Linked DNA regions of Homo sapiens: region 1 is linked to region 2. Evidence: fine-mapped expression QTL. Tissue or cell type: T cells. Region 2 holds a variant in brackets; the other region holds the start of a gene. All regions are shown on one strand. Distances are from middle to middle. Region 1 holds the start of MBOAT2 (membrane bound glycerophospholipid O-acyltransferase 2). Region 2 overlaps LOC124907729 (a long non-coding RNA gene).

The links.
Region 1: it holds the start of MBOAT2, and the variant in region 2 is fine-mapped to the expression of MBOAT2 in T cells (TOPMed, PIP above 0.99).

What each region holds. Positions count from the first base shown.
Region 1 is chr2:9,000,625-9,015,055 of GRCh38, reverse strand. It overlaps MBOAT2 (membrane bound glycerophospholipid O-acyltransferase 2), which reads left to right and starts at 11,372. Exons shown (of 13, transcript NM_138799.4): 1 at 11,372-11,516. The coding sequence starts at 11,442. LOC124907728 (a long non-coding RNA gene) reads right to left here and starts at 10,980. Exons shown (of 2, transcript XR_007086199.1): 1 at 10,928-10,980; 2 at 6,193-9,587. RefSeq lists silencers at 10,999-11,458, 12,002-12,296 and an enhancer at 12,061-12,715.
Region 2 is chr2:9,042,837-9,058,031 of GRCh38, reverse strand. LOC124907729 (a long non-coding RNA gene) reads right to left here. Exons shown (of 2, transcript XR_007086200.1): 2 at 11,812-12,065. Among named protein-coding and RNA genes, the nearest start is that of MBOAT2, 47 kb to the right of the region's middle. The variant A/G (reference allele first, on the strand shown) is at 7,466.

The DNA of each region.
Region 1 (14,431 bases), 43 kb after region 2:
ATGGATACTTTAATATGTGTAGGCATTACTCTTGCTGATATTTATTTGGTGTTATTTGTTATTCATGCTATTTTAATATAAGTTGCAACAAATTCTTCTTCTTCTTCTTTCTTTTTTTTTTTTTTAAGATGGAATCTCACTCTATTGCCCAGACTGGAGTGCAGTGGCATGATCTCAGCTCACTGCAACCTCCGACTCCTGGGTTCAAGCCATTCTCCTGCCTCAGCCTCCTGAGTAGCTGGGATTACAGGCGTGCGCCATCACATCTGGCTAATTTTTGTATTTTCTTTTTTAGTAGAGATGGGGTTTCACCATGTTGGCCGGGTTGGTCTTGAACTCCTGACCTCAAGTAATCCACCCACCTTGGCCTCCCAAAGTGCTGGGATTACAGGCATGAGCCACGACGCCTGGCCAACAAATTCTTCTTAAGTACAGTGAAATTCACTATTTCAGCAAAATCTGCTCAGCAGGTTATAAGAATTGTTTGCTTTTCACTTTGGAAACATTCAACATTTAGAGTTAGTGAAGATGGTATGAGTTTGGCACTGATATTGTGAAAATCAGAAACATGAGGTAGATCTCATATTTCTTAACTTACATTTCATAAGTGGTTGGTTGAGGAGTTACATAAACCATAACGTGCAGTGGGATAGCTGTTGGGAACAGTCTTTGCATAGACATTTGGATGTGTTCTGGGTGCTTGTTCACATTTATTTATTGTTTCTTTTATTGAACAAACCCCCTTTCTCATAACTTAAACTTTTTAAGGGTATGAAACATTATTTCATTCTTATTTCATTTTGTTACTTATATTCATTGCAGGAATTTTCAATGAGGGGAATGTATATATTTTTGTGAACAATTTAATGAAAAATATCTAAAGAAAATATTAGTAAATCAGGAGAAGGTTGGAAGATAAAGTTGAGAAAGTTATATAGAAGAAAAGATAAAGCTGGAAAATAAAGACAAAAGTTAAGTTAGAGGATTAACCCAGAAAGCCCACTATCCTACAAATAAGAATTCCACAAAGAGAGAACAGAAAAATGAAGAGAAGACAATTATCAAAGAAACATGAAAAACTTCCTGAACTGAAGGTCTTGTGTTTCTACATCCAAAGAGTCCACAAAATACCCAGCCCAATGAATAGCCAAGGCCCACCTAAGACAGATCACTACAATTTCAGAACATCAGCGATAAAAAAGAATATCTCTAGAGAGGGAAGAAAAATTAAAAACCAGGTCACATCTAAAGAATCAGAAATTAAAATGACATTTCTTAATAGCATCATTGGAACTTATAAGAAAATGGAGCAATGCCTTCAAAATTCTAAGTGATGAGGGTTTCAATCTGAAATTCTAGACCCATCTTGGGCAGATATCACAGACTGGTGCACTCAACACCCACTCCCTCATCCCCTTCCTAACAGCTTTCCTCTGTTTTAGACACTAGAAAGAAAAAACTGTATTTCCCAGGCTCCCTTGCAGCAGCAGCTCTGCATGTCACTGAGGTCCATCAGGCAAACTCACCCAGGAGAGATTTGGGCATTGGAGACAAGAAATGGTAACCACACAGAGGTAGTACATATTCTGGGGCACCTGCGGCAAAGGCTCTGCTATCTGTGTTTCTCATCCTTTTTTCTTTCATTATTGCTCCTCTGTGGAGCTTTTTTAGAAACATTTTCCTTTAACCACCCTACCCACGAAATTTGAAGATCATAGATATATTGTTTACCTATTTATGTACTATATAAATATCTATTACTCCCAATCTCCTAAAACCAATTTTCACCGCCATTGACAATGCATGTACTATCTGGTCCCTAGAGTTGTTACGTACCAAACAGCAAGTGGCGGGGGCTGTGGGATTACTATTAGAGCAGTCCTACGGTGGGACTGGGTGTTGTTCCTGGGTGTGTAACATCCAGGTGTCCCATTATGGGAGAGGAATGAAAGGAATCCCTCCATCACACCAAAGGAAAATCCTTGGCTGCAGGCTTGCTTTAGGGCTTAAGAGTGGCCAGGACAGAGTGAAGCAGAAGAACACAGGGGTCCAGGATACCCAGAAAAACACAGAACTAATAGATCACTCTGTGCACCTGGCCATGTTGATAGGAGTTCTAGAGTTCTGTGGTAGGATTTGGAAATGAATTCAAATTAATGATACTTACATAGAAAACTGAATGATTAAGGAAAGGCAACTGTTAGCTCCAGGAAAAACACGAAGTTGTAGAGGAATGAAAACATAATCATAATATACTATGTGGCTCCTCTCTGAATAATATCTATGAGTTCATAATAATGGAAACACTAAATATTTGTTTTGCCCAAAGTAGTAATATATTAGGAGAATCAGGTTGAAAGGAGAATGGGAAAATAATTCTATTCTCATCATCCACAGTTAGGTTGTCAATGTACAATGTTTAAAATGGAAAAGTCCTGAAATAGCACTATAAACATCTTTTTTTTTTTTTTTACCCCAGAAAATGTGAAGGTCAATTCCAATAGAAATAGTTAAAAGAGTTGAAAGTGTTGGCCAGGCAAGGTGGCTCATGCCTGTAATCCCAGCATTTTGGGAGACAGTAGTGGATCACTTGAGGTCAGGAGTTCAAGACCAACCTGGCCAACATGGTGAAACCCCGTCTCTATCAAAAAAAAAAAAAAAAAAAAAATACAAAAATTAGCCGGGTGTGGTGGCAGGTGCCTGTAATCCCAGCTACTCGGGAGGCTGAGGCAGGAGAATCGCTTGAACCTGGGAGGCAGAGGTTGCAGTGTGCCAAGATTGCACCACTGTACTCCAGCCTGGGTGACAGAGTAAGACTGTCTCAAAAAAGAGAGAGAGAAAAAAAAGAGTTGAAAGTGTTAACTATAGGAAGCAAAATTTAGGAATGAGAAAAGATAGAACAGGGACTTCTCTTTTTTTGCTAAAATCTTATAGTGCTATTTGCCTCTTAAAATTGTTTAATACAAATAAAGTGAAATCCAAACAATAAAAACAAGAGAAAAATGCCAGCCCTGTTCTAAAACTTCTTAATTGCTTCTTTTTTTCATTTTCTTCTTTGACAATTTTTGTCTGTGATTACTTTTCCTTCATAAAAGACCTTGGCTATACCATATGTATATTACTTATGAGTCTTCACCTAGATGAAGCTCTTAAAACTGAACACTGTGCTACATCAATTCCCTTTACTTCCAAATTCTCTTCCTGGTCCAAATGCTCTATCACTTGCATGGTGTATCCAGCCAATGCTGGCTCTCAAATGCAGGATCTCAAAGCTGGCAGGTTTCTGAAATTTGTAAGAAATCATAGCTACTCAGAAATATACAAGAATATTTATATCTTTATTACACATAATCAATAAGAACCCTGGACATTTGATTTTTATTTTATTTACATTAGAAAATGGATCTAGTAATGTTAGTTGTCATAGTTATTAGTACTGATGTATTGTTAGAGAATTTAACATTTTAACATAGAGAAAGGATTGTGGATTATTTGTAAATTGGAAAGACACAATAAAACCTAGTTAAATTATTTATTATGGCATATGAATCAGCATATATGAATTATTTTTCTATTTGCTTAATTATAATGAAGTTCTTAATAGAATACGATATATTAAGGGCCCAGGGCAATAGTTCTTAAACTTCAGTGGGTACTTAGGAATTACCCATGAACACTAATAAAATGCAGATTCTAAGGCTCTGACATAGAAAATTCTGATTCTTTATGTGTTGACTTGCCCAGAAATCTGGATTTTAAATAAGCATACTGAGTGATTCTAATAAAGAAGATCTTGGGACCCCACTGAGATACACTGCCTTGTTGAGTTGTATCAGACATACTTGAGTTGATTTTGTCTTTTGATTTATTTCTCAATGACACTCAGGCAACTCCAAAGGGAGCGATTTTAAGTGCTCTCTTAAATAAGTATCTAGGGACCAGTAGTGGAATATATTTCACACAAAGAGGAATAGAGTAGCTTTATGCAATAAGACCAAGTTCCTGGCTCCTGTCCTAGAATAATGTAGGATCATTTTACTGGTTACCAGCTGGATGCTAACCAAAAAAAGATAAATATTTGTGGATTCAGAGATGGTATTTAGAGAAATACTGTGCAGAGGGATGAAATCTAATGGTGCCTGGAATTTTCAAAATAATCAATCAGAGTAACAATTTTAAATGTGCCACAAAGTAATATGGTACTCCAAACTATAAATTATGCATTCAATTGCTTAGTTCTTATCCATGAAATCTTTATATGAGTTACTGTTTGTCCTTTTAAAATCCCTTTCCTACTGTGTAGGTTGTAAAGGTTCAGAATAGATACTAACAGTTAAAAGCAAAATATCTAACCACAGTATATTCCAGCATTTAAGAAGAAAATGTTCAAAACTAGTTGTCGCCCAATTTATTTCCGTTAAGTGCAAAACTCTGTTAATGCTTTCAGGTGAGGTAGGCCAGGAATTTATTAAATCACTTAACGTACTCTTTATACCCTATATTTTAGCCCTCAGTGTTTTTTCCCCCTCAATCTGGAGGAATAAGCTGACTAAAGCAACAACTTATGTTTTGTTTGTTTGTTTGTTAGATTTTGTTTTAAGTTCTGGGATACATGTGCAGGACATGCAGGTTTGTTACATAGCTAAATGTGTGCCATGGTGGTTTGCTGCACCTATCAACCCATCGCCTAGGTATTAAGGCCAGCAGGCATTAGCTATTTATCCTGATGCTCCCCCTACCCATCCCCCAACCCCCGACAGGCTCCAGTGTGTGTTGTTCCCCTCCCTGTGCTCATGTAACAACTTGTTTTTAATCTACCCTTCTATCTAGCATATGGTACCTATGATGATAAATGTAACCATATGCTGTAAGACATAATGGTGATGATGATGATGATGAAGGTGCTGCTGCTGCTGATGAAGGTGATGATGGCTAATATTTATTGAGCACTTACAATGTGACAAGCATTAAGTGTATTATTTGAACACCACAACAAATCATTATTACTCCCTTTTTATAGATGACAAGATTGAGGCCCAAGGAGGTTAAGTAACTTTCCCCAAATCAAATAAGAAGGCCTCGAACTTAAGGCAGTCTCATTTCTCATTCCAGTGCCCAACTTCTTTATCTATTGCTTTCTATTAATGTAACCCTCCCCACCCGATGCCTCAACAAAGTTAAGGACAAAACTTCAGATGAAGTATCTAATAAAGGACCCTCCTTTCGTGTTATTTCCACCTGATCTACATCTTCACTTTGGAAGTGGCAACCCATTATTTGTAAATTTAATAATAAATTGGTTTAAGCTTCCTTGGGAACAATATCTCTTTCATGATAGGTTTACCTTTAAACTTAATGTTTTGTGGTTTTAATAACAACTGTCTTGTGATAAACAGTATTTTAGGCCTAGATGAGAATGTAAATAAGAGGGAATAACTATTTGATTTCAAATGGAAAATAAATTAAAAGATAATTTGATGAGCTTGAAACCAGACTATCATCTGATTATAAGGCCATTCCTTAGCAGGTAACTCATGTTTATCCAGAGTCATCCATCCTGGAGAGCAAGTTCTTTGGCAAGAGAACCAGGTTAGATGTGGTAACCCCAGACATGATGGGAAGAGATGACTCTCATTTCTAATTTTTCACTGGCTAGAACTCTGACATTAGTTAGGACACTGGTATTGTAATCTGTGGACCAAAACCCAGCATCTATAAAATGACAATAAGGGAGGAAGGGTTTAGGCATAAAATACCCATAACAAAATATGCAGTTTGACACATTTACTTCTAAAGAGGGAATTCTGCTGAAAGTGATAGGCTGCTGGGGACTACACAAAACTCTTCAGCAGGCTGGAGAATAACTTACAGCTTTCTCTTTGTCACAGAGCTGGCAGCAGAAGAGGGTGGGTGTAACTCCTCCCCTAGTAGCCAGACTACACTGTTTAGCAGAACAGTGATATGTCAACATGTATCAGAAGGGCAACTCTTCTTACAATTATAGATAAACAGAAAGAACCTGGAATATTAGGCGAACTGAGAAAATGAGGCCTTCTTCCCCAGTGCAGTGACCCCAGCAGATGCAATAAATGCTGCTAGTGGTGACGGTGATTATGATGAACCCTGGGGAGGCTACAGCAATTTATATTTAAGGTGTTTCATAATTTGGACACAAAAACTATTATGCAGATATGCAAAAGCATGAAAAAGCTTGAACTTTATTTTTCTGTACCTAGGAATCAGGGGTTGGAGGCTGCATGCTCATGTTGTAATAAATAAGCATGAAAGGGGTGTTCTTTGTATTGAGATTTGACTCAATCATATAAAGATAAAAATGCCAAATAAATCTATGAGGAAAATAAAATGTTTCCCAAGATGCGCAGATATAAAACAGAAATCTTTGCAGTCCACCAAGAAATAATAGGCATTTTTAAGGAGAAAGACTGATTAGAGACGTAATACATTTGAGGTAGTCCTGGAACCTGTGGAATAATTAGAAAGCAGTGCTATTCCCAAACTGATGAGTAATAGTTTCATTTGCATCTTTTAGCCTAATTTAAACCTAGACTGTGGTCTCACAGAGACAGAGAAAGTCCCAAAAATTCTTGGGAATCATTTAATTTTAGAGGAAGAGGTGACAATTGAAATCATTTATTTAACAAATCTCTTAACATGTTCCCAATGAAATTGAAGATGAGTGATTTGTTTGCTGGTACAGTCCACGTCCGTGGTGGAGCCAGAATACAGTGGAGCCAGGACTTCTCCTACTGTGTTTGCTACCTCTTGTTCAGCCTACTTTGTGATTTCCTAATTGAACTATGTTAGGTCTTAAAGGGTGACATTCTCGTTCCATTTTCTAGTCTCAGGCTAAGGTTAGCTTGCAAGTGCTTAAAGATGCCCCTCTAGTTAACTTGGGTTGTTATTATGTGTATGGTTCAATGTTCTTCATCCATCAAAATTATTCCAGGGTATAGGAACATAGAATAGGCAAAATAATTGCCTGAGAGATGGAATTTCATGGCACATACTATTTTTACAAAACAAAAGCAGCTTGGCAGATTATTCATTTCTTCCCAGTGGTTTCTTCAATGTTAAAAATAAGTTGGGAAGGAAACATCTCATTTTAGCAATCTTTAATGATCACAGCGATTTTAGGAGGCGAGGGCAATGAACCCAGGACAAGAGCACTGCCGCACTGCCATCTTACCACACGTGGATGCTGCCTGGTGCTCCTGTGCCTTTGTCTAAGTAACTCTTGTTAACAATGTGGCTGCTATATTGAAATCCCTTTACTACTAGTTATTATTTCTCAGACTAACAGTACTAGTAACTTTAAAAATAATTGAGTCTATGATTAAGTTCATGCTCATAGTCACAACACTCCTATGAGGTAGGATGAACAGTTACCATTATTCATATTTAACAATGGGAAACTTAAGGCACAGAGAAGCTAAGCCAATTTCTAAAGTTCATAGCTATCTGGTGGAAAAGTTAGGGTTAAAATTCAGGTCTTTTAACTTCAAGCTAAGCTTCTTTCTTACAGACATATTCCTTTGATTTTAACATTAAAAAAAGAAACTTCCTTGATACTTTTCTTGTAACATGTGAATTTGTGAATACGACTGTTTTCTTCTTTTGATTACAGGCATCATTTATCCTTTACGTCACCCCACATAGCTCCTTGAACATAGTAAGTGGTCAATAAATGTTTTAACACAAGAATTGCTCTTTATAGGATGGATGTTACCCAAGGTAGGGCAGTGAGGCATTATATACAATTAGTTTAATTCTTTTCTCTTTTGTCTCCACTGAAGAGCTTCTGGTATAATTAGCAGATACTGGTCAGGCTAATTGTATGGCCTGCACACAGTTTATGCTACCATCAATGAGTTATCAGCTTAAAATGCCAGCTTCAATTCTTCATTAAAAACATGAAGAGGTAGTATATTTAATACGAAACAAATGGTTTCCATTTTCAGAATTATACTAAATTTCTTGGATTAATATTATGTGTCAGCTTGACTGGGCTAAAAGGTGCCCAGATAGAGCTATTGAAACATTATTTCTCAATGTGTATTTGAGCATGTTTCCTGCAGAGATCAGCATTCGAATTGGTACATTGAGTAAAGATTTTCTCACCCACGTACCCCGGCGTCATCACATCTGCTGAGGGCCCAAATAGAACAAAAAGGTGGAGGAAGGGTGAATTCACTCTGAACAGGGACATCCATCATCTCCTGCCCTCGGATATCATTGCTCCTGGTTCTCAGGCTTTTGGACATAAACTGAACTACACTGTTGGCTCCTGTGTTTCTCAGGCCTTTGGGCTTGGACTGGACCTACACTACTGGCTTTCCTCGGCCTTTAGCTTACAGATGGCAGATGATCGTGGGACTTCTCAGCCTTCATAATCTCAACCCAATCTCTCATAATAAACTTCTGTCTATCTATTTCCATATCTATTTATTATCTATCTATCTATCTATCTATCTATCTATCTATCTATCTATTCTATCTAGAGTTCTCCAGAGAAGCAAAACCATATCTATCTCCTATTGGTTGTGTTTCTCTGGAGAACTCTAATATAATCTTTCTTAAGTTTTATCATGCACCAAGCACTGTTCTGAGCTCTTCATATAAGTACACCTTTATAACCTCATAAACTATGGAGTTGGTGCCATTATTACGCTCATTTTTACATGAGGAAATGGAGACTTAGAAAGGTTAAATAACTTGCCCAATATCTTGCTGCTAATAAATGGAAGAGACTAGGTGTGTTTGATTCCAAAATCTAAGCTATTATTACTACTATACTATATTTTACCTATAGTTTTGTAACTCTGACACAGCAAAATTTTCCCAGATGGCTAAAATCTTCCCTATTCTCTCTCTCTCTCTCTCTCTCTCTATATATATATATAATTTATTTCTTTATATTTTTTGAGACAAAGTCTCACTCTGTCACCCAGGCTGGAGTGCAGTGGTGTGATCACGGCTCACTGCAACCTCCTCCTTCTGGGTTCAAGCAATTCTCCAGCCTCAGCCTCCTGAGTAGCTGGGACTACAGGTGCCTGCCACCATGCCCGGCTAATTTTTTTTGTATTTTTAGTAGAGACGGGGTTTCACCATGTTGGCTGGTCTGGAACTCCTGATCTCAAATGATCCACCAAACTTGGCCTCCCAGAAGTGCTGGGATTACAGGCGTGAGCCACCATGCCTGGCCTATTTATTTTTTTGAGACAGGGTCTCACTCTGTCATCCAGGCTGGGGTGCAGTGGTGCGATCACAGCTCACTGCTGGGATTACAGGCATGAGCCACAGCGCTCAACCATTCTAGATATTAAATAATTTCATGTAGTTACCCCAAATACAGATTATGTTCTGTCATGTCTGACTAAAATAAAAATTTAGCTTAAGGAAACTCCTTTCTGCAGACATTATTTGTTCTAGCTCTGAGATTGTATCTCCATGCTGCTTACTTTAGGTTGCAATATGTTCCCAACACCCACCTTTCAAGTTTTTAAAATGGCATTTCAATTTTTTCTTCAGTTTGTATGCTCAGCCACCTGTGCGCTTCCTCTACTTTTCTAAAGTGAAGAAAAGGAAAAAAAAATGGTTTCTTTCTAATATAATATTAATAGGTCTGGGTTTTTGGATTAATATACTGTAATAAGCAGCTCTCTAATTGATTACAAATCCCACTGGAACACTCCCCTGGGGGAATGAAGGTCCTGTTCTTTTTACTCTTCCTTTTATCCTCTATTCCATTTCAGCTGAGAATCCACCAAACTAGGATTGAGTCGACCAGTGAAAGGATTCTAGGCAAGACGGGATTGCACTGATGAGTTCCACTGCCTCCTTTTCAGAGAGACAAACGTAAGCCCACAGACTGATTACTAAGGCAGGTGTATTTTTATCTGTGCTGCCTTCTTATTCAAGACTCTAAGCTAGTCATCAACCCAATGGTATAACTGATAGCTGACGGGAGTTTCTGGAATGGGTGTTAAGTGTGAGAGAGATGAAGGCCTAGTGATAAGGTCGGCTCTAAATGTAGATTTACTTGGATTCCAATCTACTTACCAGCTGTGTGCCCCTGGGCAAGTTACCTCTTCTGTGACTCAACTTCCTTGAAGGAGGGTGTGTAAAAGTGTCTATTTCACACGGTTATTGTGAGGATTAAATACCAAAAGTATTAAAGCTGTGGTTAAACTCTCAGTAAACATTAGTTATTTCTACCAAAGTTAAACTGCCAAATCCTTGAGTCTTGATTTGTCCTCATAACTGCTGTGGCATTTCTCCTCTTTTAAAGTCTTCTGAACAGAAGTTGACGTTTGCATTTTAAAGGAACTCAAATGGCTTACTTTTACGAAGTTGGGGGGATTATATATACACGTGACCCGCCAGGGTATGTAAACCTGGCGGACTTCAACAGTCTGGGGGTGCCTGCGCTCAAGGGGTGAAGGGATGCTTAGAAACTTTCTCAGGAAGAAGGTGGGGCCTTCAACGAGGGCGGCTGGCTACAAAGAACTAAACTTTCACACAGCAAAGGGGAGCCGGTCTCCCTGCGCCCGCGGGCGTCGAACCCAGGCCCAGCTCTCACCACCCAAAGGCCCGGGTGCGGCTGCAGGGTGACGAAAGCGTCAGACCCCGGGGCTGCTCTCAGCTTTGGGCTTTCACCCGGCACTCTCCCAGACAAAGGGGCTTCTCAGCCAGGTCGCTGTTTTGGTTTGTCGTCCTCCCAGCCCCCACCTTCGTCCCCAACTTCCCCTGGCGCTGGCTCGGCGGCGTCCCTCACATCGTCCCTCCGGCCGCCACCCCGGGCCCCTTTGTTGTCTGCCGTCTCTCCCAGAGAGGGGTGGGGGGCCGCGACATTCCAGGGAGGAGAAACCGAGGAGTGAGGGGCAAAGACGCTCTTCCATGCTCTCACCCGAGGAGCGCGCCCCACGACGCTGGCCAGCCGTTCTCCGGCGACGGCCCGGGCCGCGCCTCGGCGCCCTCGCCCGGGTCCTCGGCACGGGGGAGGGGCGTGGCGCGGCCGGCGCTCTCTGATTGGCTGCGGGCGTCAGGGCGTCGCGCCGCGATTGGGTCGCGCAGCTGTCTGGAGCGAGAGCGCGCGAGGTGGGGAGGGGGCCGCTGGAAGCTGCTGGAAGTCGGGGGCGGGGGATGCGGCTGGGGCGCCGGGGCGGGGACGACGGGGGCGACGGCAGGACGGGCCGCGCCTGTGCAGGGCGGTCGGGGGCGGCGGGCGCGGGAGGAGGTGGCGGCGGAGGGGGAGGTGCGAGCCGGGCACCGCCCCCGGCCCCTCCCCGGCCTTCCCCGCGCAGAGCTCCGACCGCGGGCGGCCCAGGGGCGGGCGCGCCGCTGCATCCCCATCCTCGTCGTCGCCCGGCACAGCGCGAGCGGGCGAGCGGCGCGGGCGGCCGGAGCGCCGAGGCCCGGCCATGGCCACCACCAGCACCACGGGCTCCACCCTGCTGCAGCCCCTCAGCAACGCCGTGCAGCTGCCCATCGACCAGGTACCCCGAGGCGCCCTGGCGCCGGGCGTCGCGCCCTCGCCGCCCCTCCCCGCCGCGGTGCCACCCGACCGGGGGCCCGGGAGGAGGGTGGGGGCTGGGGCCGGGCGCCCGGTGCCCCCCTACCCGCCGCTCCCTGGAAGGGAGGGGGCAACAAGCCGGTTATTGTCCCAGAGCCCCCTCCCTCCTGGGTGCGCCCCCAGCCCGCCATCCCCGGGCCGAGCGGGAGGTGGGCCGGGCGTTGTTGCCGGCGACAGCCCCCGGGGAGGGTGGTCGTATGGGCGTGCGGGTGTGCATGCGGTCCCTGCCCTTCGCGGCAGCGGCGCTCGGATCCGGTGGTCGGGTCCCGGAGCAGCCCCCGGTGCGCATGGACCGGGTTGTGGAAAGGGTGCGGAAGGCTGCGCTTTGGGGAGCCTGGCGTGGTGCTGCCTGCCCCGCGCGCGCCTCTGAGCGACCCCCGGAGAGGCTGATGCATGGGTCTGGGTGTGCTGGGTGCCTTAGAGACGGCGTCGATGGGTGCTAGGGGCCCGGAGAGGCTTAAGCGCTACTGCACTTTGGGGACAGTTTGCGTTGGATTGTGGCTTAAGAGAGACAGAGGCAACAGTTTGTGGGAAGGCAGACAGGTTATGAAGAAAAGTCGGAGTTAATCCCAGGATTCTTGCTGACAAAGTGGCAACCTTGTAGATTGATGCAGCCACTTTACCTCCTTGCCCAGCCCTCAGAAAAGCTCTTGACAGTGTCTAGGGAAGGGTGGTATTTAAATGAGGCCAATCGAGTTTGATGGTTTAAAGGGCCTAACGATTACTGAGAAATAAACAGCATTGTGATGGGAAAAGCAGCGCCATTTTTACTGAGAAAAGAAAGTTTGGAAGTATTTTGTTGTGACAGTGAGATTTAGGGAAGTTGTTAATGAGGCGGGGGCTGGGGGGCGGGGGTGTATAGTTAGGTGATTGCTCTAGCCCCAGGCTAAAGGTAGTTAACTTTGGAAATTTTGCTTACAGTTATTTCAAGTGTACTTAACCTGGAAGTGTTTGGACTTCACACGGGATACTGGTTCACTGTCTTGAACTTGAAGGTGCTGCTGTCATTTAGTCTTCAGGGATTTCACTTCAATACGGGATTCCTTCTTGTCCAGACGGCTTTCCATAGCAGCAAGCTGGAAACCTGACATTAGGATACTAGCTGCTTTGTGCTTTACTGTTTTAAATAAAATCGCCTTAAGTATGTCGAAGGAGTGTTAAACAATTGTGGCTTCTGTTGAAATTCCACATCGCGGTCATAACTTCTGGTTAATAGTAAAGTACCTATCCCCCACCTGTCTTGAACAAGAGTTCTAATGGGTGTCTTGCTAATAAAGTATGGTAGTGAAATTAATCGTGTATTCGAAGAAAATATTCTTCTCTCTTTATTAATAAATTGACCAGAATTTAGGGTTTTTCATCCTCCCGGCCCCGCGGAGGATTCTTGCTGACATTTCCACACTGGTGTGCAGTGTATGACCTTTTAGCATATCACACTCCTGCCTTAAATAGGCTACTTCCAGTATATCAGCAAATGCAGGGTGGGTGTCTGTTGAAAAGTTCTTTGCTGATGAGGAGCAAGGGAGATAGGTTTATATATTTACATTTCTTTCAGAGAGATGGGCACATGTTCACGTTCCCTTTTTCTCTCCCCCATCTTTCTTTCCCTCCCGCTCCATGTCTGCCATAGCCCTACCCGTCCCTGCTATGCTGAAATATTTTCTTGACTATGCTAATAATACCTATTCATTTATATAATGCTTATAACTTTTTAAAGTGATTTGCTATTAATGAACGCATTTAAGCATCCAGAGAAAGTTCTTTTCAGTACTGAAGTAAGCAGGAGAATCAAGGGAAAGTGACAGGACTTAAAATTTTTGACATCCTTCTTTATTAGCTAAAGGTCTTAAGTTGGTACCTTGGGACTACTCTAAATTTGTACAGCCATGTGTAGCCCTGACTTTGTATAGCACAGTCGTGCACTGCATAGTGACATTTTGGTCATCAGACCACATGTCTGCTGGTGGTCTCGTAAGATTATGATGGAGCTGAACAATTCCTATTGCCTAGTAAAGCTGTAGTCATTGTCATGTCGTAGCACCACGCATTACTCATGTGTTTGTGGTGATGCCAGTGTAAACAAACCTAATGTGCTGCCAGTCCAAACCTACTGTGCTGCCAGTCCTATAAAAGTCTAGCACATTGTGTATACTACACAATTAGGTACAGTACGTAATATTTGATAATCCTAAGTGCATCACTGGTTTATGTATTTACTATACTTTTTATTGTTGTTTTAGAGTATACTCCTATTTATTTAAAAAAAAAATTAACTGTGGAACAGCCTGAGGCAGGGCCTTCAGGAAATATTCCAGAAGGCATTGTTATTGTAGGACATGACAGCTCCGTGCATGTTATTGCCCCTGAAGACCTTTCAGTGGGACAGGCTGTGGAGGTGGAAGACAGTGATGTTAATGATCCTGACCCTGTGTGGGCCTAGGCTAGTGTGTGTGTTTGTGTCTTAGTTTTTAATCGTTTTTTAAATTAAAAAAATTTTAATAGAAAAAAGCCGATAGAATAAGGATATAAAGGAAGAATATTTTTATACAACTGTACAGTATGTTTTACGCTGTTATTATAAAAGAATTAAAAACTTAATAAAGTAAAAAAGTTACAGTAAGCCAAGGTTAATTTATTATTGAAGAAAGGAAAATATATTTTATAAATTCAGTGTAGCGTAAATGTAGAGTATTTATGAAGTCTACAGTGGTGTACGGTAAAGTCCTGGACCTTTGCATTCACACGCTGGTCACTCACCCTCCTAGGCTGTACCATCTGGTCTAGGTGTGTAGCAGACTATGCCATCTAGGTTTGTGTAAGTACACTATGGTGTCCACA
Region 2 (15,195 bases):
TTACATGTGTGAGCCACTGTGCCCAGTCAGAAACTATCATTTTAAACACAACTAATTTGAAGAAAATATACCAGAAAGTGAAAAAAAAATTTAAAAAGACTATAAAAGCTGCAGGAAAAGAAAAGTCTAAAAAATATTTTTGTTCTTATATATTTGATATACAATTAGAAAATACAATATAAAAGTCCAAATCACAGCAGCACAGAAAATATAAAGGGAGAAAGAGATTTTAAAAACCTCACCACATTAATAACAACCACTACAGCAGCAACGACAACAAACTCCTATTTAAACTGAGCCTGCAAACCAAAATTCCAAAACACAGAGAGAAATGCCAAGAAAGTTATCCAGCAAAATCAATAATGAAAATATCTCTCATAATTTCATATCATATGAAGTTAATTTTATGAAATAGAAGAAGTCTCTTAAAATGTTTAGCATCTACAAAGAGATAACTGAAGGAATAACATTAATATTTAAATACTTAAAAATTATTAAATAAAAGCTAGCAGAAATGATAAAGAAATAGGTTCTTATTTTAAAAGTGCTAATTGGAAAACTGAGAAAGAGAATTTTTTAGTTAAACGTACAGAGTAAACTCTAGAGGGATACTGTCAAAAAAAAATTCCATGAATTGACAGTTATTACAGAGGAGTTCACCTGGAATAAATCACAAAGAGGCAAAGGCATAAAAATATGAAATAACAATAACCATGGAGGATAAACTGACAAGCTAAAATACATGTCTCATATGAGTTCCCAAAGAAGAATTTTGAAGAACCAGCAGAGAAGAAATAAATAAAACAACAGTGGCTGAAAATTTTCTAAAATGAAGAAATAAGCACAACCTCGGATTAAAAGTACACTCTGAATAATTTGCAGGCTAATTAAAAACAAATTCATTTCTAAACACACAAGAGCAAAAGTGTAGGATATTCAGGATAAAGAGAAAAACCTGAGAAGTTACCAGAGAATTACTAAGGTATCAAAAAGTGTTCACTTTCAATTTTATACCTAGTTATATAACCATTCTTAACTGGGCTTACAATTAGGACATTTTTCAGACTATACAACTCTACAACAAGTAATATGAGAATATAACACCATAGTAGAAACACAACTTCTGAGAGATGAGACGGGCTATAAGAAGCAAAGATGAGCAAAGAAAGTGATATATAAATATATATATATAAATATATGTATATATATATATATATATATATATATATTTTTTTTTTTTTTTTTTTTTTTTTTTTTGAGACAGGGTTGCCCAGGCTGGAGGGCAATCGTGTGATCTCCACTCACTGCAACCTCCACCTCCTGGGCTCAGACCATCCTCCTACTTCTGCCTGTTGAGTAACCAGGAATATAGGCCTGCACCACCATGCCTAGCTAACTTTTTAAAAATATTTTTGGTAGAGATGGGGTTGGTAGAGACAGAGTTTCACCATGTTGCCCAGGCTGGTCTTGAACTCCTGAGCTCAAGTGATCTTCCCACCTCGGTGAAAGTGATAAATTTTTAATAAATTTAAATAACTTGGAAAGATAGTGATTACTATTTTTTTGTAAAAAAGTAGAAAAACAATGACAAAGTGAATGCAGGGTTAAAATTTTGAAATAACTGTACACTGTATTAGAGAAATTCATAGTTAAATATTTACGTCAAAAAGTAAGCACAATCACTAACAGAATAGAAATGCAATTGACATCAATACCAGTAGAAAAAAAGATAATGGATTTTTTTTTTTTTTGAGACAGAGTTTTGCTCTTATTGCCCAGGCTGGAGTGCAATGGCATGATCTCGGCTCACCTCAACCTCTGCCTCCTGGGTTCAAGCAATTCTCCTGCCTTAGCCTCCTGAGTAGCTGGGATTACAGGCATGTGCCACCACACCCGGCTAATTTTGTATTTTTAGTAGAGATGGGGTCTCTCCATGTTGGTCAGGCTGGTCTCCAACTCTCGACCTCAGGTGATCTGCCTGTCTTGGCCTCCCAAAGTGCTGGGATTACAGGCATGAGCCACCATGCCCAGCCAATAACGGAATTATTAAAAACTTATTTTAACAGAAGGCAGGTAAGAAGAAAAAATAATGAAGCCAAGAAAAATGACAAATGGAAATCCAGACCTCTGAGGAAGGAGCGCTGCTCAGCTGGAGCTGGGATCTTTGAGCTTTGACTAGGGGATGAGAAGAGACAATAGAGCTGGTTCTGCAGGCATTGGAAAAATTGCAAACTGGATCAAGATACTTCCGGAAGGAACTACTGCTGTTAGGGTGAGGAAGTATCTTTGGGATAACATTCACAGGAACAGAAAGCTGACAGTAAGTCACACAGGAAGTAGAAAGGAAGTCATATAGGAAGTAGACAGGAAGTCACACGGGAAGTAGACAGGAAGTAGACAGGAAGTCACAGGAAGCAAGTTGGAAGAAATAAATCCCTTCTTTCCTTCCAGATTTATAAACTTCCGCTGGTACCCCTATTGATGGAGTCAAACATGGAGCTGTTGGCAAAGCAGAAATGTCGTTTGCAGAGTTTGAGCCCCAGTATCACAAAGCAGAATGTAAAAGCCTGAATTTCAAGCTAATGGATAATAACCCAACAATTGGCACACATGTTTCTTCACTCTGTTTCTTCCAGCACTATTTAATGAATTATTGTCTTGTCCCCATAGGTTTTTTTTTTTTTATGGTGAAAAACAACTTACAAGCAGAAGATACTATGACTTTACTGAAAATACTCATAACAATCTTTCATGTAAGGACTTTACTGGCTATTCCTTTACAGTGCTTTACTTTGCTGAACTTGTACATACACCAAGTCAATTTACAGTTGGGGAAAAGCCTTGTAACTATTAAATCCTCCGAACTCACCTTCCAACTCCCAAGTACATAGGGGTTATGTCACCATCCTAAGGATGTTATGGGGACATTAAAATGACAAATGTGCTAACTAATGTCAAAGATAGACATGGTTATATAAAATTTAAAAATGAAAAAAAAAACCAGAAGACAACATCTTAGGTGTCCCTTATATATGATAATGTAGATTTTATAGATGTACATGAAAGGATTGGAAGTAAAATTAGAATAGTGTAAATTAAATTGAAATAAGTCATTGCAGCTCAATGTTCCATTTTTTCTTCCCATAAAATTATGCAAGTTCATGATTGTTTTTTAGTGGAAAAAATGTGAGAAAATTTGCTCATTCATGTTTCCCAAACTGCTTCTCTCTCTAATCTCCATGTCCCTTTTAATGTTTTTTTTTTGTATCTTCTTTGAACAAATAAAGTAATGTTGGTTTTGTCTGACTTATACCCCCAGCTTTTTAAACATTTTATGCTTTTACAGCTGCTTATTCTAATATTCACAGACTGAGTGGAGTTCACCCTCTGAATTAATTCTCAAAATAAGATTGAGATGTACAACTGAAGAAAATTCACTATAAAAACGATGACTATCCATCATATAGTGTATTGTTGGCTCCCTTGGTTTTTAAAAGTAATAACATTGCCTGACTTTGTCCTGCTTTGTGCAGAATAAGACACAATGAAGGTATTTTGTGTGCTGACAATAAAACATAGTGGAGAGGAAAATGAAAAAGCTGCTCCTGGGAAAATGTTTTCCTTCAGTAGGAAACTCTTTGTCCTTGGTTGCAGGAGCACAGAGAGAACACAGACATGAAGACCCAGTTCTTCTCCCAATCACAAACATGCCTTTGGCACTGATCAAGGTACCCCAAGGAATGAGGACTGAGACAAAAGACTGTTGAATTAGGATGATCTCAATTTTTCTTTTACTGCACTCAAGGCTGTTTAATAAATATTGTTGCAACCAACCTCTTTTTCTGCATCATTTCTTTTGTTCTTCTCTTTATTTTTCCATACATTTTAAAGGAGGGTTATTCTAAGAGTTTAATTCAATATAACAACTATTTATAAGGGAATTATTATGTGAAAGATATTCCAAGTTCTCTAAAAAAATTTCTTTTCCCTTTTAAGCTAGCTTGAGTTTATTATATGTAGCCAAATAATCCTAACATGCATGCTCATTTCTTGTAAAACCAAGTTTAGACTCCTAAGAACTGTTCAGAGCTCTATCTAACCCAGCCTTTATTCACTTTCTGAACCTTATTCCTTATTGCTTCTTAATTAAAACCTTTCTCTGACCAGCCTGCTGGCCTCTGTATTTGTAAACCCACCCGGCTCATTCCCCTACCAACCACAGCTTTGCGCATTTCAGTCTTACCTTCACTGTTTGTTCCCTTTTTAAACCCCAGCTGTCTTTCAAAACCCACTTATTTCAAAACTCTCCTTCACAGTGATTACTCTTCTTTGGATTATCTGTGGCCTTTCCTGTTTGTCCAATTTATTTGGCATTTGTCCTACACATTCATGAATCATTATTGCTTTTTTTCTGTGTATGAATAAAATTATAAGATCCATGGGCTCAGAAACCACATGTTTTGCTTGTGTTCTAAAGGAGAAGCAGAAACACTTTCTCATTCACTACTGCTGCCAGGTCACTTGCAAAAATTACACCCAAATAGGAGATTCCCCTTTTGCTCTGAGAAGTGAAGCTAACCCTTACACTCATTCACTAAATCCATGTTTATTGAGCACATTGCAAGTGCCAGGTACTGGCAACACGGATACACAAAGGGATCCGCCCTTGCAGGCCTCATAGCTGACTGCGGCACAAACAGGTCACATGGAGCCTTGTGCAGAGCCCAGAGTGTTTGGAACTTGGTCTTCAGGTGACCGATGGTGAGAAAGTACTGAGCTGACAGAGAGGGAGAGCATTCAAGAGTCCAGTCTTCAGTTGCACGTGTTCTGTGAAACCAGCAAAGCCCCACACCTGTTGATACTTTAGAGGGGATAGATACACAGCTTGCTCCAGAATATGCTTTCTTCTAGAATTTGAGTTCAGCTGAGATACAGACACAGAACCCAGCCTGATGGAGATAACAACTTGAATGCTGCAAAAAACCAGAATGAGGGTGTGACCTAGGTTTGTGGCAAGAGGAAATGCTATCATTCCTCTGAAATAAACTTACCCCACCAGTGGGAGGCCTCACCTACAGACAACATCAGCCCAACTAAGCTCACTGCATACCAGGAAGCAAACCGGGCTCTAAGGAAAATCAGCTTCTAACCCAGGTGAGAACTTTCAGAGAAACAGAGAAGATACTTCATAGTTCCCACACTCTGCTTCTGGAACCCCCGATGCATAATGTCATCTCCATCTTTCTCTCTGGGACTCTGGGGAGTCACAGAAGCAATGTCTGTCAACATGCTGCCATCTGGGAAGGCATCTGGAGGGGTGGGGAGTGAGAGAAAGCTCTGAAGGGCAATGTCATAGGAAATGCAAAATGACTTGGGTTTAAATGCCACTTCTGTCATTTATTCACTATAAAACTCTGTAAATAATTTCACTGAATGTCATTTTCCTCTTCTGTAAAATGGGAATTTTACTTCATAAGGTTTTCATTAAAAATGTACCTGGTATATTACAGATCTCAAAAAGTGCTTCTAAAATTTTTATTTTAAAGGTGACTTTTGGGGCCAGGTGCAGTGGCTTACGTCTGTAATCCCAGCATTTTGGGAGGCTGAGACGGGTGGATTGCTTGAGTCGGGGAGTTTGAGACCAGCCTGGGTAACCAGGTGAAACCCCGTCTCTACAAAAAACACAGAAATTAGCTGAGTGTGGTGGTGCACGCCTGTGGTCCCAGGTACTTGGGAGGCTGAGGCGGGAGGATCGCCTGAGCCTGGGCAGTCGAAGCTCCAGTGAGCCGTAATGGTGACACAGAGCAAGATCCTGTCTCAAAAAAAGGATGCTTTTTGGGTTTCTAACTTACCTCCTAATTAAGTAAATAATTTGTTGCCTAGTAATAAAAAGATAAAAGCAATAATTTGCTACAAAGGGGACATTGTTGATACTATGTCTATATATTCAAGCTTAGGGGAAAGAGTGAAAACACATCTAATTTGGTTTAATTTCTCCTCAGCACCCGATAAAATGTAAGTATTTGGGAGTTGCTGGGATGCGGACAGTTGATAGCAAATACATTTAAAATTATAGAAGTGCGGCTGGGCGCCGTGGCTCCCTGTAATCCCAGCACTTTGGGAGGCTGAGGTGGGTGGATCATGAGGTCAGGAGTTCAAGACCAGCCTGGCCAAGATGGTGAAACCCCATCTCTACTAAAAATACAAGAATTAGCCAGGCATGGTGGTGGGCACCTGTAATCCCAGCTACTCGGGAGGCTGAGGCAGAGAATTGCTTGAACCCGGGAGGCAGAAGTTGCAGTGAGCTGAGATTGCGCCACTGCACTTCAGCCTAGGCGGCAGAGTGAGACTCCATCACAAAAAATAAATAAATAAATAAATAAATAAATAAATAAATAAATACAGAAGTGCACAGATCTTATGGATTTGTCCAAATTTCATCCTGTAATACTGAATATTTTAGAAATTTCAGACGTGTTGACTTAATGTGGCATCAGAGGGATGGGTAGTCCTTATGGTGTGCAATCATCACCTGGAATGCCACACTGTCCTTCTCCTACATTGAACTCCAGGGTATGATTATTCCATGTGTGCCTACCCTCCTGTGTTAATTACTGTGATGGATTGTTTCACTCTCTGAGATGACATTCCTTTAATTTTTTTTCCAACAGAAAAACATAAAACTACTCAGTAGGAACAAGGAGCATTCTGTTAACAGAATATTTAATAATTGCTTTTGATATTTAACTCGATACTTATAATACCATTTAAATAAGCAGTCTCTGAATAAAACTACCGGTTTAAATTCAGGTAAATAAGGTAGCACGTAAAGCAATAAGATAATTTCGAAACCAGGAAAAAAGAAAATTGGTGATTTGCAATAGCAAAGACATGGAATCAACCCACGTGGCCATCAGTGATGGACTGAATAAATAAAGTGTGGTACATATACACCATGAAATACTACGCAGTCATAAAAAAGATCAAAATCACGTCCTTTGCAGCACCATGGATGCAAGCTGGAGGCGATTATCCTAAGCAAACTAATGCAGAAACAGAAAACCAAATACCACATGTTCTCACTTAGAAGTGGGAGCTAAACCTTGGGTGCACATGGACATAAAGATGGGATCCATGGACACTGGGGAATGTAAGAGGGGTGGGAGAGGAGGCAGGGGCTTCAAAACTACTGGTTGGGTACTATATTCACTACCTGGGTGACAAGTTCAATCGTGGTCCAAACCTCAGCATCACACAACATACCCATGTAACAAACCTGCATGTTTACTCCCTGAATCTAAAGTAAAAGTTAATAAAATAAAATAAAACTGGTGCTCTGTTGATTGAGAAATTAACAGCATCTTTATTTTATTCAACAAGATCTATTGACCGTCATGTGACCTCATGTAACCTCAAAGGAATCACACTCAAAAGCAGGAAACACACATACAAATAGGGACTTTCC[A/G]GAGAGAGACAGAGTCCCTGAATCACATCCATTTTTTGAGGTTCCTGATGTACCACAAATAAATAAATTAATTAAATAGTTATAGTTGGGAAACATGATTATAAAAATGGTAGTAGACTTTAAATGTTTGCACTTAACAACAGAAGTGGCGTGATGGAAAACTTCTTTTAATCCTGTCAGTGCATCTCGTAGCTATTTATATAACCTAGTCAGAGATAACATCCAACAGCTGACTCGGAGGCCCTTTGTAAATAGGCCCTGATATGCACAGATAATGCAAGGGCTCAGCCCTGGTCTTAGCGGCCACTTTTGCAAGCAAGATCTACAAGATTTCCGCTGACTGGAGTACTTTGGGTCTGTGTTTACGTGGGCCAAAAGAAACGAAGAGATGAGATGAATATCTGGCTAATTCAGGTAACATCCTCCTCCCCGAACATTACTTTTAAAGAAAAAGCGAGAGGCTTGAGCTGGAATGAGGAGAGATGGATGTAGAATAAGACAACTGTGCACCGGCCTACATGAACAGCTGTGGCCCCAACCATATCACACCTCATGCCTCTGCCTAGCTGCTTTTGTGATGCAGGCCCCCAAAGCCACACTGTGTCCCCATCCCACAGGTTGGACTCTCACCCACACATCTCTTCCCCCTAGAGTTTGGGACACCAGAGAGCCAGGCTGCCTGGCAGCTGGAGTCACTAGGATCCCTAGTCTACGCGGGAAGAGAGACAACTCTGGCTGTGGTCAACTCGATTTGAATCCTGTCTCCAGAACATGTGGCCTTCGTTGCTTCATCTCTACATTTCAGTGTCCTAAACTGTAAAATGGGGATAACCGCAATTGTAGCCACCTTACCAAGTTGAGGCGATGAACCCTAGATTGTGTAGCTCCTCGTACGTGTTTTCTCAAAGGTGGTGGTGTGTGGTGAGACACCCACAACTAGTTTGAGCACTCACTGATGATTCTTGCCTAAATCAATTATTGGTATGATAGTTGCAAAATGGCAACCAAGTTCAGCATTCTCTCTAAACTTATTAATTATACTAGAAGATCTTTCCATTCTTCCATTCTCTTGTGTACTTATTTTTGTTTAATCAGTGTGGATTAACGGATTCTTATTTTACCCAACGGGTTATAATCCATTATTATTATTATTGATCTTGACGCTCACGTTTCCCCAGACTTTGATCAGTGAGAGCTTCTGCAAGCTGTTCCCCATGTCCTTTGAATGTATCCTTTTTTTTTTGAGTACTTTTTTATTTGTTATGGCATAACAAAGCATTCCAGGCTCATAGTACATTTTCCCTGCCCCACTCTTATAATTGGCTTTTTTTTTTTTTTTTTTTTGGAGAAGTGCTGCTTCTTTTTACTGGGAAACAGTATATAGAATCTGACATCTGGGTGCTAGGCATGTTTATTGCTTTTGGGTATCATTGTTTCTAGGCCGTTTCAGCAGAAAAAACTAGAGAATACACACAAATATTCACAAATGTAATTATATCTATACAGTATTTAGAAACCATGAATTCCAATTCAACACCGCAAGGCTCTTCTTAGCCTTTTACCATTATGTATTAATATTTTCCTTCTCAACGTCATCAATACGTGTACTCATTTGTTCACTCCTACATACATAGCAAGTTGTTTAGAATTGCTAGCCCACAACACTGCTAAAATAAGCCCTACTTAAATACAGTTCAAGATTTGCTTGCAATAGGCTTTTTCCTTGTAGTCGAAATACTGTGTTAAAAAGTTCCTCAGGGTGAGTTTATTTTTTAAAAACAAAGTTATTTGTGTTAGTTCCCCTCCCTTTTACTGTAGTCACGCTCTCTATTTTAAATACCATTGAGTTCATTTGTTTCTGTTTGTGTTACATCTTAGGACTTCCCCTCCTCCATCTTATTGACATAGTTTAATTTAATTTTATTTAATTTTGGTGTATGTAAACATTAATGTGGTTCTGGAAGTCCATACTATACAAAGAGATATTCTTTTCACAAAAATAAGCTAATATATATATATATATATATATATATATATATATATATATGTCTAACATCTATATCTGTATGTCTTTCATACACAAAAGATACCAATATATGTACTCCTTTGTTCTTTTATTATTATTATTATTTTGCTTAACAACATGCCGTAGAAATGATTCCATATCAGTTCAGATATATTCCTTATTTTTTATAGCTGCATAGTGCTCCATTGTGTGGATATACCATACAGAGTTTTAATGGATTTTCACATCTCACTTTATCTTTGCAATGCCCTGTGAGGGAGAATGTATGTTATTATCCCCATTTCATAGTTGAGAAAATAGATTCAGAGAGGTAACTGATGAGTACTGACAGGGTGGGAGCTGAGACTCAGTCTTGAGTTTGAGGCCAGCCCTCCTCTGACTGCTGTGCTGTTAGTCTCGAGATCTCTCATCCCTCTATGGCAGTGGTCCCCAACCGTTTTGGCACCAGGGACCGATTTCATGGAAGATAATTTTTCCAGGGGCTGCGGGATGGTTGCGGGATGAAACTGTTCTGCCTCATATCGGGGCATTAGTTAGATTCTTATAAGGAACGCGCAACCCAGGTCCCTCACATGCACAGTTCACAGTAGGGTATGTGCTCTTATGAGACTCTAAGGCTGCCACTGATCTGACAGGAGACGGAGCTCAGGCAGTAATGCTCGCTGGCCCGCGCTGTGTGGCCTCTTGCTGTGTGGCCTGGTTCCTAACAGCCCACGGATCAGTATCCGTCCGTGGCTTGGGGGTTGGGGGTTGGGGACCCCAGTCTACACCTTAAGGTAATTCAGTGTTTGTGGGCTAGTCTGGAATGGTGACCACTATTTATAGTGTCTCTAGGTTTAATTGTAATAATAATGTGTTCTGAGTTCTAAACAATCATTAAAACAAAATTTAGTAAAGTATCCTACATCAGGGTCCTGAGTATGTTCCAGCTTGGTAATTTAAGAGGAGTTAGTAAAGGACCTTGTTGTTGCAGGGAAGTAGAAATTAGAACAATAGTGAGACACTATTTCCTAACCATCAGATTGGCCACAATTAACAAGCCTGACTATACCAAGTGTTGAAGAGGACATAAAAAAATAGAAATGCTTATATACTATTGATGGGAGTATGGATTCAGTCAATCACTTTGGAGAACAATTTGGCAATATTTTAGAAATTTAAGACTATACATAGCTTTAATGTAATTAACATATAGTGGGTTTATTAGTGATTTTTAAATAAGTTAACATATATTTTAAGATTTTCTCAGTTTTAATCTCTACTATGATAAGTGTTGATAGCTATAACACACATACACAAATTTCACTGTGTTCCTAAATAAACGTCGGCAGGATGAAGAGGTACTGAGACAAAAATGTCTTCAAACTGCCGTCCTAGAGAAATGCTGAAATATGCACATAAGGAGAATTGTTTAAAAACATTGTCAGATTGTTGATAATAGTGAAAATGTGAACACAAACGTCCACCACGAGAGCATAGACAAATGGAGTGCTGTATATTCATACAATGGAATTTTATATAGAAACTAAAATGAATCAACTTGGATAAATCTCAAAAACCATGCTGCATGAACAAAACAAGTCGTAGAATGTTGCATGGAGTATGACATATTTTCTTTAACTTAAAAAATTTGCAAACGTGCAGTGGCTCATGCCTATAATCCCAGCACTTTGGGAGATTGAGGCAGGTGAATTGCTTGGGCTTAGGAATTCGAGACCAGCCTGGGCAACATGGTGAAACCCCATCTCTATCAAAAATAAAAAATCTTAGCCAGGCGTGGTGGTACACATCTGTGGTCCCAGACTTGGGAGGCTGAGGTGGGAGGATCACTTCAACCTGGGGGGTGGAGGTTGCAGTGAGCTGAGATCACACCACTGCAAACCAGCCTGGATGGCAGAGTTGCAAAACAATTTCATGTAACATGTAACATGCATACATCCATGTATGTGTAATGAAAGCTTAAAAACACTCCTGGGAATGATGTATTCCAACTTCAAGATAGAAGGCTTCAACTCTATTATATGATGTTTTAAAAAAGATATATCTGAGATAAATATGCGAAAATATTAAGATTTTGTGGGGGTATAAAGGTAATGGTTACTATTCTATGTATTTGAAATACAGAAGAGGAAGGAAGAAGAGAATGAAGGTTACTTAGATAATTATTGGAGATGGAATAATTATCTGAACAGATTATCAAAGATCCCTTGAAGCAAGAAGAAAGAGCACACAATAATATGAAATCATGCTGTGGAAGATTCTAGGTTCTTTGAGAAGGAAGGAAGGAAGGTTGTTGAAGTACTTAATAAAAAGTCAGAAGAAGGAAATGAATATTTATTGGATGGTTCTTACGTGGTTGACACTATCTCATACAATATTTTACTCAACCTATAAAGAACCCAGCAAGGTGTAATACATAGCTTTTGGGATAATAATACATTATCTCAAATTTACAGACGAGCAAATCAGAGCTCAGAGGGGTGGCCCAGGGTAAGTACACAGAGGAAGCCGACTTTGAGTCCAGGTCTTCTTGACTCAAGAGAGCTTTGCACTATTCGATTCTATGTGTGCCTCCTAAGGAGAAGAGAACACAAAGAGAAGAGATTAGAGGAGACAGCATTTCTCTTTAATGATACTTCGTATTTACGGTAACTGAGGGGTTCAAAGAATTCTAGAGCCATCACGAATTAATTCTCATAAATTATGCTGACTGTATATGAGAACCTTTACGAAACATGAAGTTTCATCATGATCAAGCAATTTCCCCTCGATTAGGACATTAGTTGCAATGTGTGGAATATAATTCTGTTTTTGTTTAGCAGAATAAAATAATCACACTGATCACATCTGCCTTTTGGGGGAATCTTGATCTTGTTTTTTTCTTTGAACCATGATTCATTTCATTTTGAACCAATGAATGAATGAAAAAGACATTTGTCGAGCACTTTTCTGTGCTGTGCTAAATGCCTTCTTACACATGACCTCATGCAATCATCACAGCAATTGTTTGAGGGTTTTTTTTTATCACCCCCATTTTATAGATGAAGCAATGAAGGCTCGGAAGTCAGAAGAGACTTACTCAGAGTGACCCAGCAAGGGGTGCACATGCTGTTTCCAACTCAGGCCTATCTGGCTTTTTCATGTTATGCTTTTGGACAATTGTTAACCAACCATTCTTAGGATAAGACCTTAAGCTGACTTTGAAATACTTGTAAATTCTTAGGGGCTGCAAAGCTCTCCTTTGTGAGGAGAAACCAAGTGAGAGCCACACTGCCTGCTGCTCATTGAAGGCTTCCAACAAGCGCTTTGCACGCTGCCCACATATTTTGCTGGCATTGCCCCTTCTTGATGAACCATCGCCTGCTGCTTTAGAAGCCAGGCTTAAGCAATAGTGGAATTATTCATATTATTACTATTGTAATGGTAGTCATTTCAAGCATGAATTCAAAATGTTTACTTTTATTGAAGTAATAGTGGTACATAGTTAAATGTTTCCAAAAGGCTTAAAACGTTCATAATCAAAGAGAACAGTCCCTTGCCTATCTTCCCTCCACAGTCCTGTTCCCAGAAGGAACTGCTGTAACCTTCTGGTTGTGCCTTCAGCAATATAGCTCCACGTTTAAAAATAATTTGCAAACCTGCATTCTTTTGATCCATAAATTTTAGACAGAATGCACTGAGGTTCAATAGTGGTAGACAAGGATTTAGCTCTGTTATCATCCCTCCCATCCTTCCATCTTCCTAATATTTTTTCTTTCTTTTTGAGATGGAGTCTCACTCTGTTGCCCAGGCTGGAGTGCAGTGGCACGATCTTGGCTCACTGCAACCTCTGCCTCCTGGGTTCAAGCAATTCTCTGCCTCAGCCTCCCGAGTAGCTGGGATTACAGGTGCCCACCACCATGCCCGGCTAATTTTTGTATTTTTAGTAGAGACGGGGTTTCACCATGTTGACCAGGCTGGTCTTGAACTCCTGACCTCGTGATCCACCCGCCTTGGCCTCCTAAAGTGCTGGGATTACAGGCATGAGCCACTGTACTCGGCCAATTTATTTTATTTTATTTTATTATTATTATTATACTTTAAGTTTTAGGATACATGTGCACAACATGCAGGTTTGTTACATATGTATACATGTGCCATGTTGGTGTGCTGCACCCATTAACTCGTCATTTAGCATTAGGTATATCTCCCAATGCTATCCCTCCCCCCTCCCCCAACCCCACAACAGTCACTGAAGTGTGATGTTCCCCTTCCTGTGTCCATGTGTTCTCATTGTTCAATTCCCACCTATGAGTGAGAACATGCAGTGTTTGGTTTTTTGTCCTTGTGATAGTTTGCTGAGAATGATGGTTTCCAGTTTCATCCATGTCCCTACAAAGGACATGAACTCTTCATTTTTTATGGCTGGTAGTATTCCATGGTGTATGTGTGCCACATTTTCTTAATCCAGTCTACCGTTGTTGGACATTTGGGTTGGTTCCAAGTCTTTGCTATTGTGAATAGTGCCGCAATAAACATACGTGTGCATGTGTCTTTATAGCAGCATGATTTATAATCCTTTGGGTATATACCCAGTAATGGGATGGCTGGGTCAAATGGTATTTCTAGTTCGAGATCCCTGAGGAATCGCCGCACTGACTTCCACAATGGCTGAACTAGTTTACAGTCCCACCAACAGTGTAAAAGTGTACCTGTTTCTCCACATCCTCTCCAGCACCTGTTGTTTCCTGACTTTTTAATGATCGCCATTCTAACTGGTGTGAGCTGGTATCTCACTGTGGTTTTGATTTGCATTTCTCTGATGGCCAGTGATGATGAGCATTTTTTCATGTGTCTTTTGGCTGCATAAATGTCTTCTTTTGAGAAGTGTCTGTTCATATCCTTCGCCCATTTTTTGATGGGGTTGTTTGTTTTTTTCTTGTAAATTTGTTTGAGTTCATTGTAGATTCTGGATATTAGCCCTTTGTTAGATGAGTAGGTTGGGAAAATTTTCTCCCATTTTGTAGGTTGCCTGTTCACTCTGATGGTAGTTTCTTTTGCTGTGCAGAAGCTCTTTAGTTTAATTAGATCCCATTTGTCAATTTTGGCTTTTGTTGCCATTGCTTTTGGTGTTTTAGACATGAAGTCCTTGCCCATGCCTATGTCCTGAATGGTATTGCCTAGGTTTTCTTCTAGGGTTTTTATGGTTTTCGGTCTAACATTTAAGTCTTTAATCCATCTTGAATTAATTTTTGTATAAGGTGTAAGGAAGGGATCCAGTTTCAGCTTTCTACATATGGCTAGCCAGTTTTCCCAGCACCATTTATTAAATAGGGAATCCTTTCCCAATTTCTTGTTATTGTCAGGTTTGTCAAAGATCAGATGGTTGTAGATATGAGGCATTATCTCTGAGGGCTCTGTTCTGTTCCATTGATCTATATCTCTGTTTTAGTACCAGTACCATGCTGTTTTGGTTACTGTAGCCTTCTAGTATAGTTTGAAGTCAGGTAGCGTGATGCCTCCAGCTTTGTTCTTTTGGCTTAGGATTGACTTGGCAATGCGGGCTCTTTTTTGGTTCCACATGAACTTTAAAGTAGTTTTTTCCAATTCTGTGAAGAAAGTCATTGGTAGCTTGATGGGGATGGCATTGAATCTATAAATTACCTTGGGCAGTATGGCCATTTTCACGATATTGATTCTTCCTACCCATGAGCATGGAATGTTC